Homo sapiens: one gene and its partners. The protein of the gene in region 2 purifies or fractionates together with the protein of the main gene of each other region. This does not show direct contact. Each region holds a gene or a part of one and is shown on either strand. Other genes may lie near its edges. The genes, in order: MAN1A2, TLR5, DHRS3, DHRS7 and SNX14.

Region 1 (3,612 bases), about 110 Mb from region 2:
TTTATTTCATACAATTTTGGGTTCTATTACTATATCCTTGCCCATTCTTCCAGATCTATATTAGTACATTATTCAATTAGCATTTGTATCAGTATGAAAACATACATAACTATGTTTAATCTCATCTATATGACAGGAAAAAAATGGGCATAATAGAAAAGTCTTCTTTCTTCAGGAGGTACATATTTGTTTGGCATTCTTTCCTTTTGAGAAATGTTAAGTCTTTTTGGGGACAGCTCTCCTTTCCTCACATATAACAGAGCTGTCAATCAAGAGGCTCTGCTTCTACCACCAATTAACTCACCCTAGCTAGAAAATCCCCTATCCTTAGACCAGAGATCAACAAACTAACTCTGCTGTTACAGCATAAAAGCAGTCCCAGATAATATCTAAGTAAATGGACATGGTTGTGTTCAAATTAAAATTTATTTTATTTATTTTTTTTGTTTGAGATGGAGTCTCGCTCTGTCACCCAGGCTGGAATGCAGTGACACCAGCTCAGCTCACTGCAAGCTCCACCTCCCGGGTTCACACCATTCTCCTGCCTCAGCCTCCTGGGACTAGAGGTGCCCACCACCACACCTGGCTAATTTTTTGTTATTTTTAGTAGAGACAGGGTTTCACCGTGTCAGCCAGAATGGTCTTGATCTCCTGACCTCATGATCCGCCCACTTTGGCCTCCCAAAGTGCTGGGATTACAGGTGTGAGCCACCATGCCCAGCCTAAAATTTATTTTTAAAAAACAGACAGCAAGCAGAATTTGGCCCACAGGTTGCAGCTGTCAACCCCTGCCCTAAACAAAGTGAGTGGATACATGTGATTCAGGTAGGAACAATCAAGTTCTTTTTACACATATTGTTATTGACACCATGAGATAGAGGGCTTTTTTATTCTGCAATCTGATGGTCTATGTAATATATAATCCTGGAGCTGATAATGGCTCTCTGCCAGCATGGAGAAACTAGCAAAAGGAAAGAGAGACAGATGCTTAACACTCACAATAATATCTACAGGCTTGGATTCAGCCAAACTTGAAGCCCTTGTTTAGAGCCATTAAACCAATAAATACTATTTGTATCACTTAGTTTGAGCTGAGTGTCTTACAACCCAAGGAGTTCTGAGTTATACAATAGCAGAGTATTTAATTATATATCAGACGAATTATATAATAGTAGACCAAAAATCTATTCATTTAACAGCATACTATTCATTAAACATTTCCCAACTTGCTTTATGCAGCCAGCATTAATCAGACACCAAAATCAAGCAAAGATATTACAAGAAAACTCAAGACCAATGTATCTCAAGAACACAGATGCAAAATTCCTTAAGAAAAATTAGCAACATCTAAGACAGATACCATACCACGACAAAGTGGAGTTTAACCCAGGAATATAAGACTAATTTAACATCCAAAAAACAATGTAATTTACCATGTTAACAGAATAAAGGAAAAAAAATCATACAGTCATCTAGAGAAAAATGAAGACAATGCATCTGACAAAATTCAACACTCATTCATGATAAAACTCTCAGTAAACTACAATTACAAGGAGACATCCTCAACCTAATAAACAGCATCTTTAAAAAACCTACAGTTGACACAACATAGTTAATGGCAAAAGACTGGATGCTTAACCCCTAAAGTTGGGAACAAACCTAGTATGTCCATTCTCGCCACTTACTTTGAACAATGTATTAGAACTCCTAGCCACTGCAGTACGACAAGAAAAAAAATATAAAAGGTATAAAAATCAAGAAGGAAAAAGTAAAAGTATCTCTTCACAGAAGACATGACTACGTATAAGAAAAATCACAAGCAATCTACAAAAAAGCTATAAGAATAAATAACTTCAGTAAAATAACAGGATAAAAGTTCAGCAAACTAAAACATGTTTCTATATGCTGAGTTCCGTGGGTACTTCTGGTGAGTCACTGAACCTGAGGATCATCTGGGGGTCCCCTGAACACACATGGTTATCTATCTGAATTATTACGTATTTGAAAAAAGTATTTCAGTACATTGTAATGACATCTGAAAAAAAGCAAGTCAGGCATCTGAAAAAAAATCTATCACTGTCTCTCCCAACACTGTCCGAAGGAAGTGCCTTAAGTAGTCTACATATAAAACAGACTCTAGAGGTGAGGTAAAATCAGAGCACAGCTCTATTTCTACTCCATCAAGGTCAAGGTTTTATAATAATTCATAAGGCTAAGCTTAAAGTATCTGCTATACCTTCCATATCCATTACTAGAATATATCCAAATAGATATTTGATTACTTGAACTAAATTTATCTTACTTTATAATAATTAAACCTTCTGAAATATTGTTGGTACAATTACACTCTGATAAAATATTTTTCTTCACAGGCAGTATAATCACAAACTCCACCCAGAATTTTTAGGAGTTCTAATTAACAAAGTTTAACCCAAATATTCACTAGATTTTTCCCATCTGGTATTCTCTTTACTTTTAAGTAACTACAGAATAACAAATTGAAAGACTTCTGAGGCTAAATAAATTTAAAGAATTTTGAAATCAATTCTTTCCCATTTTTCAATCCATGGAGACTTTTTGGAAGGAATGTGTTCTTAATCTACAGTATAGTTGAGGGATACCATGACATGTTCCTTAAAAAATTGGAGATATAATGCTAGCTCTTTAGAAGCATGTTTATGAGGTGATCTGCATAGTATCTAGCAGAGTCCCTTTGTAACTGAACATTTAAGAAACTGCTTAGACAATAAGTTATATACAGATATATTATTAATAAAACGCTGAATTTCAAAAGATCTCTGAACAAAGAATGAGTGGCACTAACCATCCAAAAGTTGTATCAAAAATATTTTAAGTGTCCAATAATTACATTATAATTAACATTAAAAAAAAAAACAAGAAAGAGTTCTAGTCCTTATTACCAACCTGGAAACTATACTACAACTATGACCCAAGAATAAACAGATCAAAACAGGATACCATAGATTATATATATTTGTTTGTATCCAAATACAAATCCATAAACACTCCATATCACAAAACTCAGCTTATTACCTCTTTAATTTTTTCCCTTTTCTCTCTTATGTCATTATCTTCTGGGTCTCCACCACGTATTCCTACAAGGTTGGGAATAGGGACTGGTGGCAGTGGCTTGTTCTCTTTTATCTTCATTTCTTGGACTACCTTATTTTTCTCTGTCTGAATTTCTGCTCGAATTTCCTCTCTTGACTTTCTTAATTTTTCTTTTGCTTCTTCCAAGGCCTTCTCATGATCAGCTCGAATTTTATTTCTCAGACGTTCTTCCTCTTCCCTGTGAGAAAAGAAGGAAATAAAACGTAACAGTGAGCCTACTTAAGAATGTCAACCTTTAAATATAAAACATAAAGGTTTCTCCATTAAACCCAGGAACTTGTTTTCTACTTTTGCCATTAAAAGGAAAGAATTATCAGTGAGACACATTCAGATCTGGAATGAGAAAGAAAAGGAACCCTGGATGCCTAAGATCAAACTCTGTTTATAATCTCTTTATACAATTTCCAGACTAAGAGCAAAGATAACAGTAACTTATCCATAGACACTTGCAAAAAACAGACACCAGTGAAAACTAAATGG
Region 2 (3,612 bases):
ACAATGTCCTGAAAGTTGAAGAGTTGGCTTATAGTGCTTTTCATTATTTGATAGATGATTAACTCAGAGAGGTTAAGCACTTGTCTAAGATCTCACATTTATTACACTGTGGAGCTCGGATTTGAATCCCGCTGCAAACTTAGTTGTCACTGTGACCTTTGAACAAAACAAAATTGAATATGCTGCAAAACATCCACAGAGCCTCAAAGCGAGCTCGGAACCTGAAACGGCCCGCCTGAGACCTCCTTGAAACGGTGATTCTGATTCATCAGGGCTGTGGCTGAAGGACCTGAGAGTCTGCATTTCTAACGGGCTCCCACGTGATGCTGCTGCTGGTCCACTGACCACACTGTTAGCGGTGAGAACCTAAGAGTCTGTAATTGCCTCCCTGCTCATTACCCCCATGCCCACGTGAGCTGCCTCGTTCTTCCAGGATAAGGCATGGCTAAGATGCTGCACGATTGGTTTTGAGAAGGGGCTATACTAATACATTCACTTCCCCTTCCTCCCCATTTTTCTCAGCGCTGAAGAGTGAAGCATCAGAGAGTACCTCAAAGAAGATTCATGTGAGGCTTTGAGGAGGAGGGGATGGATGGGTCATATCGCTTTACTAGGAGCTAAGGAAACGGGACAGCTTGGGTGCGACTTCTGATTTCAGGAGATGCGCTTTCCCTAGAGACCAGCAGAGGGCGCAAAAGGGGCAGGGACCGAGGGGGAGGAGCCCGCGGAGCCGCGGCCGGAGAGTCGAGCGGGGCGCGGGGAGCTGCAAGCGTCCCTGAGCTGAGCTCCGCTGGGAAGTTCCTATCGCTTGCGCAGTAGAGTGCATTTAGACATTTCAATGACAACTAAATTTGTAGCTGGATTCAAATCCTAGCTCCACAGTTTAGTAGGTGTGTGAGCTTGGGCGAGTGCTGAACCTCTCTAAGCATCAGTTTACTGCCTATAAAATCACAGCAATAAGTTTCTACCTCCCACCCCCGCCGCCCCTACCCCGGCAGCAACAGCCTGCTTCCGGCTTCCAGGGATCCTCCAGTGCCCAAACCAGAATATCCAGTTACCCATGCTTAATACTCCAACAGTTCTTGCTTGCTGAAGTAGGCAGCCATCATTTACGCAACTACACCTTACCAGAAACGCCTTCCCTTTAGAACACTGAAGGGGAAAGTTAGAGAGGGAAAGGAAATTTCTCAAGGCACTGGGGTGATTTTGTGTTTCTTTAGCATGAGTTACCGGAAAGCTTCCTGTGTTTTCTTTACTATCTTTAGGTGGTGGTTCCCAGCATCAAAAAACAGCAAAAACAGCAGCAAGCAAAGGCGCTGATACTCTGAAAAGTTATGTTGAAAACACATGGTTTAGGTACAGAATGGCTTCCCCGTTGTTTGCACATTATAACTCTTTAGCACACAATTTTAAAGCATCTGATTGAAAGAAATAATTTTTAGTGATTATTAAAAACGAACAACTAGCACAACATTTAAAATCGTCGGGAAAAGGTGGCTCGCCCAGAAAGTGAACATCCCTACCTGTCTCCAGGTTCGGACAGCGCCAACATTCTCAATTAGAAAATTAACATCTGAGGCTCCGACATCTTCCCTGGATGCTAAATCCTGTGTATTGATGGGCAAAGTCAATTGCCAGGAAAGCTGGGCAACTATAAGGTCAGGGGGCTGGAGCAGATGAGAGTAGGGAAGTCCAGTATAGCATCCCTGAAAGTAATGACACAGACAATCTGCTAAGCGCTGCAAAAATCATTTGGAGTGTGATGTAAATTGGAAACAGCTGGGGTGGGGGTGGTGACCGGCAACTAGGAACCCTATTAACCTGATCAGTTAGATACGAAATGGGAATGTGAAGAGAGAGTATCAAACACTTGAGAACTGTTCTGAGAGGGATGTGTAGTCTGTGCTGGGCTAGCAAAGGAATCAAGAGAAAGCTTCCCAGGCAGATAAAATCCAATGCACCCTGCAGCTGCTGGAGACACCCCCTGATGCAAGGTAAGCCCTGAAGAGGTTGAGAAGGAAAGGTGGGGGGCACTCAGGCCAGGATGAGGATGCCCTGAGAGGAAGATGATTTCACTGGTGTTGCCTGAGGGACTGTAAGCAGGGACAGGTGAGGCTGGGGAGCGCACCCCTGCTGGAAGCACAGGTCCCCACCCTGTGCCCAGTGTCCTGGGACCCGAAGGAGGTTTACTGCATGTGGAATCTGCCTGGGCAGGCTGCCCAGGGTGGCTATGCTCCATTCTGAGTCAGGGCAGGGAGTCAGCTAGTTGATTTGGCTCCAACTTGCTAGTGGTGGTTACTTTCGAGATACATGAGACCATGGCAAAAATGCTGGGCTGGGAGAGGATAAATATCGGTTCTAGTCCTCCTTCAGCCACAGTCTGGGTATCCTAGACAACTCTAACTTTCATTGTCCTCAGTTTCTGCATATGTATAACGGTGAGTTTGAAATGGAAGCATTTTTAAATCCTTGTTAACTCTGAAGTTATCTAAGGAAACTTGCTGAGTATCATCATGACAGCAATCATAGACCAGGGCCAATCCTCCCTGAAGCAGAACATTCCTTCTTCATTCTGGCAAATTTGCAAGGCTGTTACACCGGATCTTGAAGATACATAGTGGAAAATGATGTTATTAATGTACCGATGAAAAAAATGGAACCACATATATCCTAGCTTTAAATAGCAACTTTTTCCCCCCTCAAGAAATTACCCTCAGAGGAGCTTATGTCTGCGGCTAGATATTTTGAGATTTGACTTTTTTTTCCCCCTCTCCTTGTATTTCTGCTTTCCTAGGCTCACCTCCACCTCTGTAGCCAGCTCCCTAGTCATTGGTCCAGGGCAGGTATATGTCAGAACCCTACCAGGAATAGCCTGCAAGTTCTTCTGGCTTTGATTTTCCAAACAGGGCCTTAGGTTGGGGACACAAAGTCTTTGCCAAGTTGGGGGAAGAGGGGTGGGGTGTGCTGATGGGTAAAGCAGAGAGACATGCTTCTAGAAACAGGAAGACAGGAAGGGAAAAGGGGTCTGTCAGCACCAGGAAGACAGGACTCTGGCAGGACCCCAGTGAGTTAGCTATGTGGTCTGGAAGCAGTGAGGACTTGCTAGGCAAGACAGGCACAAGAGTGCCTTCAGTGGTAACCCGAGTGGACCAGATGGGGGAGCAGGAGATACCTGCACCCGAGCCCCTGGGATCTTGGCAATGCATAAGAGATCTGAAATTGTGACACAGTGACACAACCTGGGGTGATTTCTATGGTTGCTGGCCAGATGAGATGAAGGCTCTAAACTAATATTAATATCTAGAAAATAGAGGAGAGGCAGTATTTCTTGCACATCTGTGCATGCTAGAGATTCACACTCACTACCCTTTTGGTTCACAGGTTGGGAAATAAAAGAAAAGGTAGTCTTGAAGCTATCTGAACCCAGTTATATCTCTGACCAAGATGAGGAGGAATCTCAGACCCCAGAAACTCAGGACTAAAAGTGACTTCTGATTTTGCCTTTATCATGGTCTTCTGAGTTCAAATCCAGACAGTTTCCCTGACTGTAAAATGGGATGGTTATGAAGAGTAAATGAGATGGGACATATAGCTTATATTTTTTGGTCCCTT
Region 3 (4,167 bases), about 210 Mb from region 2:
TTTTTGGTGACCCTGACACCAATTTAAGACACATTTCTAATTGGCCCTGGCTGGATTCCCTGGAAGAGGACGTCCAGTCCAAGTTAGGTGGGGTTTGGTTCCCGGTGCGTGAACTTGCAGGCTCCACTCTGTACTATCACACCCACCCCCCAATGCCATACACTTCTTTCAATTTAGGATTGTTTATAGTCAGTCGAGTTTTTCCAGATTGACTAAGAGTTCCTCATCTGCCTACTGTAGTCAGCTACAAGAACAGTAAAAGAGACCCAGGACTTGGGCCAGCTGGAAGACTCAGAAAAAAGTTTCTGTGGGATGCAGACAGCTAAAGAATGACAATCACATGCAATTGTCCCAAACCCCACGTCCGCCCCAAAGGACACCCTCATCTGCCCTTTTCAGTCCCCTTCACAAAGAGCTTCAGGAGCCCTTTTATGGGGCATCGCCTCAAGGAAATGAAACTGCTGAGAACAACTCTGACTTCCCCTTATTCGTTGTGTCCAAGGGTTAAAAACGCTTCCCAACTCCCCCTCCAAATGCAAGGTCAAGCGGCTGTCCAAACCACCCAAGGAGAAGAGGGAGTCCTGGACAGCCAGACCCCTGCTAGCTTGGCCACCACAGGCTCCGGCCAGCCCGGCTAGGGAAGAGTTAATCGGATCGGCTTTGGCTGATAGTTCAGGCTCCAAAGTTCAGTCCCAGTCAGAGCCACCCCGGAGGAATTGTAAATCTCAGGGCAGTATTTAACAAAACAAAAGCAACCTGGAATTACATGCAGGTTTGGTTTTCTACAGTACATATTTACTTAATCCCCAAGGTATGCGGCTCCATGTCAGATCAGCTGGCTTTGCGGCCCTTTCACCCCCCTAGTTCACAACAGTTTAAGTTTCAAACTAATTCCCTGTTTTCGCTCTTCCTCTTCACAGGGCTGGCTGGAGACAGCCTGGCCTGCCTCCCTCTCCTGATGGCTCTGGTCACCGCGTGAGTCAGCCTGGCCTGGGCTGGGAGTTGGGTGACAGCCTGCCCACTCTCCCCACTCTGGCACCAGGTCTCCAAAACCTGGAGCAAGGGGTGCCAGGACCACCAAAAAGTTAAAGGCCGTGTTTGGTGGGCAGGACCCTCCTTGCAGCACCACCTTCCAGCTAAATGGGGAGGGATCCCTGGGGGGTGTACTGGGGGGGAGGGGACAGGGTTGAAGGTGAGAACAAGGGCTCTTTATCAGTAGCTGCTTACCCTGGCCTCCTCTTTCCTGCTTTCCAAACACCTGGGCCTCTCAGTGTCGGTCCGGCCAGACTACTGCATACAAGACCGCTCTTCCCTTTTCAAACCCAAACCAAGTACCCTCTCTCGTGTCTTCAGAGCTGCAGCCGCCCAGGTTGGGGCTGGGTAGCGGGTTGCCAAGGAAAATACGAGGCGCCAGCTAGCAGGCGGCTCCCAGCTCTACCCAGGAGTGCGCACACCCTGCACTCACCAGGGTGGCGGCAAGAAAAAGGGGGGAAGGCGGGGGAGGGGGGCACAACACCTTCCTTTGGGAGGCAGGAATGTGGGAAATGGTGGGTCTCTTAGGTTTCAGGGTGGGGGTGAATAGCCAGTCAGCCAGCCACCGATCCCAAAGGAGCGGATCAACTCTGAACCTGCCAAAAAAGACAGTCCGGTGCCCGGGAAATTTACAAGGTGAAACCGACTAGCTCAGCACTCGTGGGTGGCGCGGAGAAGTGGGGTGGCCGGCGACTCTCAGCTCCCGGGCGCGGGATCCCGCAGCGGCAGCAGGTGGGCTTACCCCCGCCCCTGCGGCCCCCCACTCCCTGGAGTCGCAGTGCCTGGTACCTTTCTGGCGCCGCGCTCCGCGAACTCGCGGGCGAGCTGACGCCCGATGCCTCTCCCGCCGCCGGTGATGAGGACGTTCTCCCGCGACAGGTCCCGCAGCTTGGCGGGCAGCACCAGTCCGACGGCTGCTTTCACCACCAGATAGATCATCTGTAGAGGGAACATCACCAGCGCGCCCAGCCGTTTCCACACCATCCTCCGCGCCGCGGAGCCGGGCAGGGGGCGAAACTCCCCGGGCCGAGCAATACAGGAATTAAAAAACACCCCGAACAATAAATAGTAAACCGAATAAGGAGGAGAGAGGCGTCCCACCTGGCCACTCTTGAAATCACCTCTTCCCAAATGCAAAGCACCGGGTGAGAAAAAGAAAAAAAAAAAAAAAAAAAAGATAAATTCTCCTCTGGGGGAGAAAAAGCGTCTCCTAAGGTTGGGACGGTAAAAGAGGTGGAGGGGGAAGCCGGAGGTGGAAAGTTCTAACAAGAAGTTTCTTGCCCCAGCAGCCGTTTCGGCTGGGGAATTCTCAGGTAATGTTTACAGACTGACAGAGGAGTTTAGGGAGGGGAAGAAAAAAAAAAAAAGGCACCAACCACACGCGCGCACCCTGCCTCGGTCCCGCGGTTTCAAAGTGCAAGATTAAAAAAAAAAAAAAAAAAAAAAAAAAAGCTGATTCCAAATTGTAGCGCCCCCACCCCCACCCCGTCTCCAGAAAAAAAAAAAAAAAAAAAGTGGGGGGAAAAAGTGCTTGGAGCTCCCAATTTCAGCCCGCGAAAGTCTCCCGACTCATTGCTATTCTTGGGCTCAGGAAATTGCTTAAACGCGATCTGATTGCCAGCAACGTGCAGGAGAAGTGGGGGGTCCGGGTGTCAGTTTCTTTACGTGCAGCGCTCGCCCTCGCGCGCGCTCGCTCGCTCCGGCTCCCTCCCTCCCTCTCTGTTCCAGCAGAGGCTGGGAGTTGCCGCTCGATCCAGCTCCCCTTCTCTCCCTTTTTAGCATTTATTGCCTTCTTTTTGTCCTTTCCAACTTGGAGAGGGTCCGGGTGTGGAGCGCGCGTGGATCGGACGCCTTGGTCTGCGCGGCCCTATTCATTCGCTCCCCGGGCAGCCGCGTCGCGGAGAGGGCGGCCCCTTTTTCCCCCATTTTTTCAATACCCCATTAAGTCTGATTGACAGTTAAAGTTGTTGGGAGGCTTCACTACCGTTCCTCTGAGTGGCTGCTGCGGCCTCCCCTCCCCCTGCGCCGTCGCGGGGAGCGCGCATAAGGCGCGCACTCGGGCTCGCCGGGACTCGCGCTCTCCCGGGACTGGCTCCCCTCTCTGCAAGCCGGGACTTGCCGCCGGTGTCCCTGAGGGCTCGCAGCTGTAACTCGAACACGCTGGAACCGACTCCGGCGAGCCGGCTGCCTTCTCGAGACGTTCCTCCTTGCCCGGGCCGCCCGCGGGCCAGGTGATCACCCCGAGTGTGGAGCAGGCCCGGGGGAGCTTGCGTATGCCTTGATCCAACCAGGTCACCCAGGGTTTTATTTCAGGTCATTTGGTCATCCTCGGCCTCCAGGTAGGATCAGGAAGCCACTCCTCACCTTTGCCCGGACCTCTTCTGTGTTCACGTAGAGTGGACTTTTAAAAGCCTGACCCAAGTGCCTCACGATGCTTAGGGGGAAGCCGCTGGGGAGCAGGACTTTGCTTTGAGGGGAGGGAGTAGTCAAGGTAAAGGAACCTCTGCTCCGAGTGCCAATAAAATCCCCACAAGATTAGCTGGGAGCATATTTATTGCTCATCTGAGCTAGAATTACCTTGACTGACACCAATTTCCTTAATAACAAAAGCCTGTAAACAAAACGTCCTATTCGTGCGCCCCTGTGCTGTGCAGCCAGCGTCTCCTGTCCTTGGGTCTCCCTGGACTGCCCTGGCGGGGCACCCACCTTCTAACCTCCTGCCCTTCCCGACCGGAATGTCTCCCCTGCTGGAGGGTGGGACCGAGCTATTTAGAGTTGTCTGTTGCAGGAAGTCTGGGAGGTGAGTCACTAAAAAGCAGCCCCAGTTCAAAGTGCTGATGGGACTTGCCTCCCGCCCCCCTGCACGTTCCCGGGGCCGGAGGAGCGAGAGCGAAGCAGGGAGCTGCCCTGTAATCTGGGGCAGCCGTTTCCAGCCCGCGACTTGTTCAGACGGCGATTCCTGGGCCTCACCCCCAGAGATTCTGATTCAGCAGGGCTGGGTGCGCTGGGATCGGTACTTTCAATGCTCCGCCTGGTGAGAAAGTCACTTCGAAAAACGCTGATCTGCGGGGAGGGGAGGCTGGGATTACCTCGTCACCTGCAAAGACCTAGTTCTGGGGAGAGGTTCTGCAGGGG
Region 4 (3,612 bases), on a different chromosome or scaffold from region 2:
CCTAGTGTGCTTCTCTCGAGGCAGCCACCATTTCCTGCCTCCTCTGTATCCGTCTAGAGAAATTCTGTGCATTTCCAAGCATATATCTCACATGGTGATTTTTTTTTTTTTTTAATAGAGAGACAAGGTCTTGCTTTGTCACCCAGCCTGGAGTGCAGTGGCATGATCATAGCTCACTGCAGCCTCGAACTCCTGGGCTCAGGCAATCCTCCCACCTCAGCCTCCCCAGTAGCTAGGACTACAGGTGCAAACCACCACACCTGGATATTTTTAAACTTTTTGTAGAAACAGGCTCTCACTATGTTCCAGGCTGGTCTTGAACTCCTGGCCTCAAGTGATCCTTCCACCTTGGCCTCTCAAAGTGCTAGGATAACAGATGTGAACTGCCAAGCCCAGCCACATATGGTGAAATTTAAGGGTGACTAATTTTAGACATTAAAATGGTCCAGAAAAATCCATGGCACAAGTCTAGAGGAGGAAAAATTTCAACAGCAGCACATGTGAGCAAAACTCAGGTTTTTGTTAACAGTAACCTCAATAGGAGTCAACTGTGAAGTGGCTGCCAGAAAAGATCAGGCAACCTTGGGTTGCATTTGTAGACCTCAGTGTCTGAAGCAACAACTGCAAACAACAGATGTCTCCTGACTAGCTGCTTGTATGTGCCGGCCTCTGTGCTGGGGCACTGGGGACACTGCAGTGACTGAATCAGCCACAGTCCAGGCCCTCATAGACCCTACCTTCTGGGGGACAAGGGAAGTGATTTTTGACATCTCATCCTGCTCTGCACTGTCCAGACCCTACCGAATCCTGTGTCCTGCCCTAGCCAGCTCCCTTTAATAAAGAGGAACATTAACCAACTAGAATTGGTGCAGGTGGGTGTGAGCAGAAGAGTGAGGAAACCTGATACCATGTCATGTGAGGGAAGGTGGCAGAAATTGGATAGGTTTATTTAGCCTTAGAGAAGGTAAGAGATGAAAGGACTTAGGGAAGACATAATGGCTGTCTTCCCTAACAGCTGTGAGGGATTGTCATTTAGAAGACAGGTTTCATTTCTTTTCTTTTCTTCCTGAAACAGCTTTTTGTAAAACAAGAAAGCAGAATTGCAACACAATTTAAATGTCTGTCTAGGTCACAAAAGGGATGCAAAATGTTTGTAATATGATTAGTATGTATTCATATAGTGAGTCATTCTTACACCTATACATAAGATTATTCCATGATTAAAGGTAGCCCAGCTCTAATAACCATAAGCTATATTAGTGGATCCCTTTTCCTATTATAACATTTTAGTATTACTTCTGATATTGATTCCCTTAACAAATGGAGTCTACAAACTGAATTTTAAAAAATTGTTAAAAGTGACTAAAACTCTGTAAACAGAGGAGTTGAGTTTACAAAAAATTCTGGGAGAACAAGCAGGATAAAACTGAGCAAGATTATCAATAAGTGTACATCTGAAACTCCCATTTTTCACAGTTCTGATACTAATACATTCTTAAGGAATTTTGCAAAAGTTAATCTGCTGAGTAGAAATATACCTTGAGACCAAACTCTTTGTAACTGTTCTCTTCCAGATGTGGTACATAAGATTAGTCAAAGTTGGCCAGATGCGGTAGCTCACGCCTGTAATCCCAGCACTTTGGGAGGCTGAGGTGGGCAAATCGCTAGAGCTCACAAGTTCGAGACCAGCCTAGGCAACATGGCAAAACCTCATATCTACAAAAAAATACACACAAAAAAATTAGCCGGGCATGATGGTACACGCCTGTAGTCCCAGCTACTTGGGAGGCTGAGGTGGGAGGTTGGCTTGAGCCTGAGCCGTGGAGGTTGCAGGGAGCCAAGATCATGCCACTGCACTCCAGCTTGGGTGACAGAGCCAGGCCTTGTCCCCTCCCCCCGTCCCCCCGCCAAAAAACAGGTTAGTCGAGCTTAATCTACTCTCATATATTTCCCAAAAGATCTACTCTGTGCCAGAGATAACAAAAATCTGGAGTGAAAATATTTGGAGTTGGTTACTAGTATTTTCCCAAGTACTTTTCCATCCTATTTCTATTTTCCCTTAAGCTTTTCTATTTTAAACACACACGACCATAATTTATATCTTTTCAGATACAAAGTAGGTAATTTTGTAAAAAAAAAAAAAAAAAAGAAGTTTTTTTTTTGTTTTTTGTTTTTTGAGATAGAGTCTCACTTTGTTGCCCAGGCTGGAGTGCAGGCTCACTGCAAACCCCACCTCCTAGAGGTTCAAGCAATTCTCCCTGCCTCAGCCTCCCAAGTAGCTGGGATTACAGGCACCCACCACCACGCCCAGCTAATTTTTGTATTTTTAGTAGAGATGGGGTTTCGCCATGTTGGCCAGGCTGGGCTTGAACTCCTGATCTCAGGTGATCCTCCTGCCTCGGCCTCCCAAAGTGCTGGGATTACAGGCGTGAGCCACTGTACCTGGCCAAAAAGAAGTTTTTGACAACAAAAAATTATCTTCCCAGATTGACAATTCAGTTTCAATGAAAAATCTTCATTTTTATAGTCTCTTTTTGTTTTCAATTGATTAAAGAGAAACCAGCAATTCTATCTTAGTATTAAATATCACAAATGAGAAGCTCTAGCTGAGAAAATGTCTTCATTTGGTTAAGTTTTGACAATTAAAGTTCAGGTTACTCTCAGAGATGATTAAGTATTAAAATTGCTTTTACAAATATGAAACCAGTTTTTCCCTGGGGGAGGGGAGATAGGAAGGAAGAAGCCAGTGGAGAAGGGGCCCAAGAAGATGGATAGGGTACATGAATCTGTGCAGTCAGTACCTGATTGGGGTCACTTTTTCACAGCATGATGGTTATTTTCTTGTATATCTTACTAAGCCTATAATAAAAGACAGGGCTAAACCCACAAATCAGAGCAAATTTGATAAAACATTCATCTTAAGTTTCATAAATATGTGCTATTCTAAATTAAGTTTCCAATACATTTGCACATTCTCATAGACTAACATAATACACAAACTTATGGAAGTTTCCTGTTATGCTATGAATGTTGCCTACATCTGACATTAGCTTCATAAATATTCAATGAAACCACAAACAAAGGTACTATCACTTTTGAAATCTGTCCAACATATAAAGAAAGGTCAGCAGCAATTCCATAAAACAGAAGGGCTTCAATTCTGTATTTTCTTTTGCTTTTTGTGTCAGTTGTTTGAAAAACACTAGAAGCTGACATGAAATTTTCTGTGTATTGTCTAAGAAACTTGGTTTTCTGATTTTAGCTTGAGATTTTCTTCCGTAACCGCATCTCCTCTGACAGGGAGATCTTGAAGTGTATGTTGGGGTTCCAACACTTGATTAATAAGCTGTGTTTTTCCCTCCAATTCCAAATGATTTTCAGCATCAACTGCATCCATGTCAATATTTGTCGTCTTGGGTAACAAACTTTTGGGCCTTGGATACAAAATCCTTGATGAATGTTTGAGGTGCTGGGAGAGGAAGGGATGGGGAGGATGCCTCAGGCTGGACACTTGGACCCACCGACACCAGAAGTTTGATTTCTTCTTTGTCAAACCACAAGGCAGGATTACTGCCCACTGCTACTGGTTGATAGCATTTAAAAGCTTATCAT
Region 5 (3,612 bases), on a different chromosome or scaffold from region 2:
TATGTATCTTGTTAAAATTTTTCTAAAAGAATTTCAGGCATTTTCAGATCACCATATAGAATACAGTTCTACAATTCACTAGTAAAATGCCTTGTGAACTCATATAACAATGGAACCACATATTCATTCAGAAAAATAGCTAATAAAGACAATGATGCTATCATAGAATGACTGGCATCAGCAAGTTCAAAAACAAAACATACAACCTACCTGTTCAATTTTGAATTGCGTGTTGGTGATTCTGCACCTCTTAAAAGTTGTCTGAAATACTTTAAAATAACAAATAATAATTATCATTTATTACACTTACAATTAACATTAAAACATGTTACCTTAGTTTACTACTTTCCAGTTTTGGGAAAAAAAAAAAGCTATCTCAATCAAGTGAATACAGACATGGTCAACTAGGGTAAGGATGAAAATATTGCAAATGCAGATGATTTCCACAGGTTTGTAAATAACGTGTATACAATGAGATTTCTGCGTCACTGCAGTACTACAAAGCCACTCAGGCATATGGCAAACCAGGCAGACCTATTTGGTCCCAATCTATCTACTTACACAAATATAAACAGGTTTTGGTATTGATAATTGTTTTTGCAATTATTATTTTATTTATTCATTTATTTATTTATTTTGAGACAGAGTCTCGCTTTGTTGCCCAGGCTGGAGTGCAGTGGTGCGATCTCGGCTCACTGCAAGCTCCGCCTCCCGGGTTGATGCCATTCTCCTGCCTCAGCCTCCCAAGTAGCTGGGACTACAGGTGCCCGCCACCACGCCCAGCTAGTTTTTTGTATTTTTAGTAGAGAAGGGGTTTCAATGTGTTAGCCGGGACAGTCTTGATCTCCTGACCTTGTGATCCGCCCGCCTCGGCCTCCCAAAGTGCTGGGATTATAGGCCTGAGCCACCACACCCGGCCTTTGCAATTATTTTTTAATCTTCACTTAATTACATAGCGAAAAAGAATATTTACTTTCTTAATCTTGGTTTTTTTGTTCTGTTTTCTACTGAGACGGAGTCTTGCTCTATGGCCCAGGCTTGAGTTGTAGTGGTGTGATCTCAGCTTACTGCAACCTTGGCCTTCTGGGTTCAAGCTATTCTCCTGCCTCAGCCTCCTGAGTAACTGAGATTACAGGCATGTGCCACCACACCCAGCTAATTTTTTCTATTTTTAGTAGAGATGGAGTTTCACCATGTTGGCCAGGTTGGTCTTGAATGCCTGAACTCAATTGATTCAGCCATCTCAGCCTTCCAAAGTGCTGGGATTATAGGCGTGAGCAACTGTGCCCAGTAATCTTGTCTTATTTTTCTATTTATTTTGTTATTTGAATCACTCATCTAATGATATCAAAGCTACTATTAAATTATGTATAAAAATCCTCAAACAAGGTTAATATTTTGACTTACCTCATCACTATGGCAGAACATAGGAGTAAATACATTCTCCAAAAGGGAAAGAACATGTTCATATGCTTCAAAAAGACATCTCATAGTTTGAAGTTTCACAACATCTATGTATGGGCCTTCAGCAACTATTAAAAAAATTCTACTGTAGAAATTATTTATAAATAGCATAAATATATACAGTTCTAAAACGTTTTACTGAAACTCCACTGAAACACACTAGATTGAGAAATTAGACCAACCAAGCTCTAGTTCTGACAAATACATAAAGTATAAATAAGTTTTTTCTTTAAAGCTTTCATCTCATTAGTAAAATAGAATAATAGCTGCCCATGTACTGCAGCTAGCCACTGCAATAATAAACAGAAAATAAATGGAAAAACTGTAAGAGTGCTAAATAAGTCATTCTTATCGTCTTTGACTTACTTCTTTGAATCTCTTCTACAATGAAGGGATCAAATCTAATTTTGTCAATACTTTCATCCAAACAGTATGTTTTATAAATCTTCTGCAATTCTTCATGAAGAGACAGCATTTCATCATTTGATAATTCTGGTCGTAAAATTCTATCATTAAATTCCTCTAACAAATGAGGGAATGAATAAGAAAAAATAATTTTAATATATAATTATTCATAAAAGCTTCAGTCCCATTCTAATTGTAGCCAATACTAACAGCAGCAATTAGAAGCAATCTAATTCATCTAAGTTTTTAAAAAATATTTGAGAATAAAATAACTACTCAATAAAAGAGAAATGCAATCAACCAGTTTTTATACATTAATAGAAAATATGTAAATACATAAATACCAATACAAATTTTGCTAAAATTCAAAACACTAAACACACTTCTAATAGTTTCCTTAAAGAATATTGAATTTATTATACCAAAAGTCTTTTATTATTTTGAGATCTGATTTACTAAATAAAAATAAAAATGAAGACTTTTTTTAGTCCCAATCAATGTTTTTAAACAATATTTCTATCATGAACGCTGCAAACTAGTGGCAGAACTGAGTTTGAACAAATGAATGTTTATTCCAAAATAAAAGATGGTAGTATTATGATAGCCAAAATACCAATTGCTTTTTCTTTTTATTTCAGGATGTGTTAATAAGGAGTTTACCTTTTACTTCTTAATCATTCAAACTGAAACATAAAGGGGAAAAAAGGGAGTTAAAAAAAAAAAGCTGGAATACAGGATATAAGATTTGTGAGGCAACAGAATATAATTGCCATTCCTGTATGAGTTAACATGCATATAACTGGAGTTGTTAAAGAAGAGAAAATGGGGCAGGATATTTGAAAAGACAGCCAGGAATTTTCAAAATTGATTAAAGGTCAGGTGTGGTGGCTCATGCCTGTAATCCCAGCACTTTGGGAGGCTGAGGCAGGAGGATCGCTTGAGCCCAGGAGTTCAAGACCAGCCTAGGGAACATAGTGAGACTCAGTCTCTACAAAGAAATTAGCCAGGCATGGTGGTGTTCACCTGTAGTCCCAGCTACTTCGGAGGCTGAGGCAAGAGGATGAATGAGCTCAGGAAGTTGAGGCTGTATTTCGTGAGCCATGATCATGCCATCTTTTCAGACACACAAAAGCTAAGAAAATTTATCTCCAGCATATTTGTATTTTAAGAACTGTGAAAATGATTTCTTTCAGCAGAAAGAAACAATATTAGAAACCTGGTTCTGCAGAAAGAAATGAAGAGCACCGGGACAGTAAATATGCCAATAATTGTAAGAACCTTTAAAAATGAATGTGTGTGTGCATTCCACACATGTGTAGAAGCCTGATGACTAGTGAAGAAATAATGTACTGTGGTTTTATAGCCTATGCAGAATTAAAATACATGACAACAGGAGCACAATAGGCAGGAGAGGATGCTCTGAGGTACACTGAGGTTCTTACACTGCTCCTGAAGCAGTAAAATGTTTTTAAATTAGGACTATGATAAATGAAAAAGAAAATCTCTGATCAATCAAAAAAGTAACAGAACACACTCAAAAAAATAGGAAAGATAAAATACTAAAAAATAACCTCAAGAAAGGCAGCAAAGGAGAAAAAGAAAGGCAAAGAATATACAGGACAAATATAAAACAAACACCAAGATGTAAGGCCTAACAATAAACACATAATAAATATATCACGTGTAAATGTACTACAGATACCAATTAAAAAGCAAAGATTACTAAATTAGGTTTTTTTAAAG

What was found.
Region 1: the proteins of TLR5 (region 2) and MAN1A2 purify together in Homo sapiens (affinity purification with mass spectrometry; 2 studies listed by BioGRID and IntAct, with this or other methods). This does not show direct contact.
Region 3: the proteins of TLR5 (region 2) and DHRS3 purify together in Homo sapiens (affinity purification with mass spectrometry; 2 studies listed by BioGRID and IntAct, with this or other methods). This does not show direct contact.
Region 4: the proteins of TLR5 (region 2) and DHRS7 purify together in Homo sapiens (affinity purification with mass spectrometry; 2 studies listed by BioGRID and IntAct, with this or other methods). This does not show direct contact.
Region 5: the proteins of TLR5 (region 2) and SNX14 purify together in Homo sapiens (affinity purification with mass spectrometry; 2 studies listed by BioGRID and IntAct, with this or other methods). This does not show direct contact.

Annotation. Positions count from the first base shown.
Region 1 is NC_000001.11:117,401,884-117,405,495, reverse strand, and holds part of MAN1A2 (mannosyl-oligosaccharide 1,2-alpha-mannosidase IB), read right to left. Parts: intron 3,311-3,612; coding exon 3,055-3,310; intron 1-3,054. UniProt on the Homo sapiens protein: Involved in the maturation of Asn-linked oligosaccharides. Progressively trim alpha-1,2-linked mannose residues from Man(9)GlcNAc(2) to produce Man(5)GlcNAc(2).
Region 2 is NC_000001.11:223,133,159-223,136,770, forward strand, and holds part of TLR5 (toll-like receptor 5 precursor), read right to left. Parts: intron 1,707-3,612; 5' UTR 1,524-1,706; intron 1,325-1,523; exon of another isoform or gene 1-1,324. UniProt on the Homo sapiens protein: Pattern recognition receptor (PRR) located on the cell surface that participates in the activation of innate immunity and inflammatory response.
Region 3 is NC_000001.11:12,615,333-12,619,499, forward strand, and holds the start of DHRS3 (short-chain dehydrogenase/reductase 3), read right to left. Parts: upstream 2,879-4,167; 5' UTR 2,017-2,878; coding exon 1,822-2,016; intron 1,458-1,821; exon of another isoform or gene 1-1,457. UniProt on the Homo sapiens protein: Catalyzes the reduction of all-trans-retinal to all-trans-retinol in the presence of NADPH.
Region 4 is NC_000014.9:60,158,880-60,162,491, reverse strand, and holds part of DHRS7 (dehydrogenase/reductase SDR family member 7 isoform 1 precursor), read left to right. Parts: intron 1-3,612. UniProt on the Homo sapiens protein: NADPH-dependent oxidoreductase which catalyzes the reduction of a variety of compounds bearing carbonyl groups including steroids, retinoids and xenobiotics.
Region 5 is NC_000006.12:85,541,775-85,545,386, forward strand, and holds part of SNX14 (sorting nexin-14), read right to left. Parts: intron 1,987-3,612; coding exon 1,831-1,986; intron 1,533-1,830; coding exon 1,408-1,532; intron 270-1,407; coding exon 211-269; intron 1-210. UniProt on the Homo sapiens protein: Plays a role in maintaining normal neuronal excitability and synaptic transmission. May be involved in several stages of intracellular trafficking. Required for autophagosome clearance, possibly by mediating the fusion of lysosomes with autophagosomes.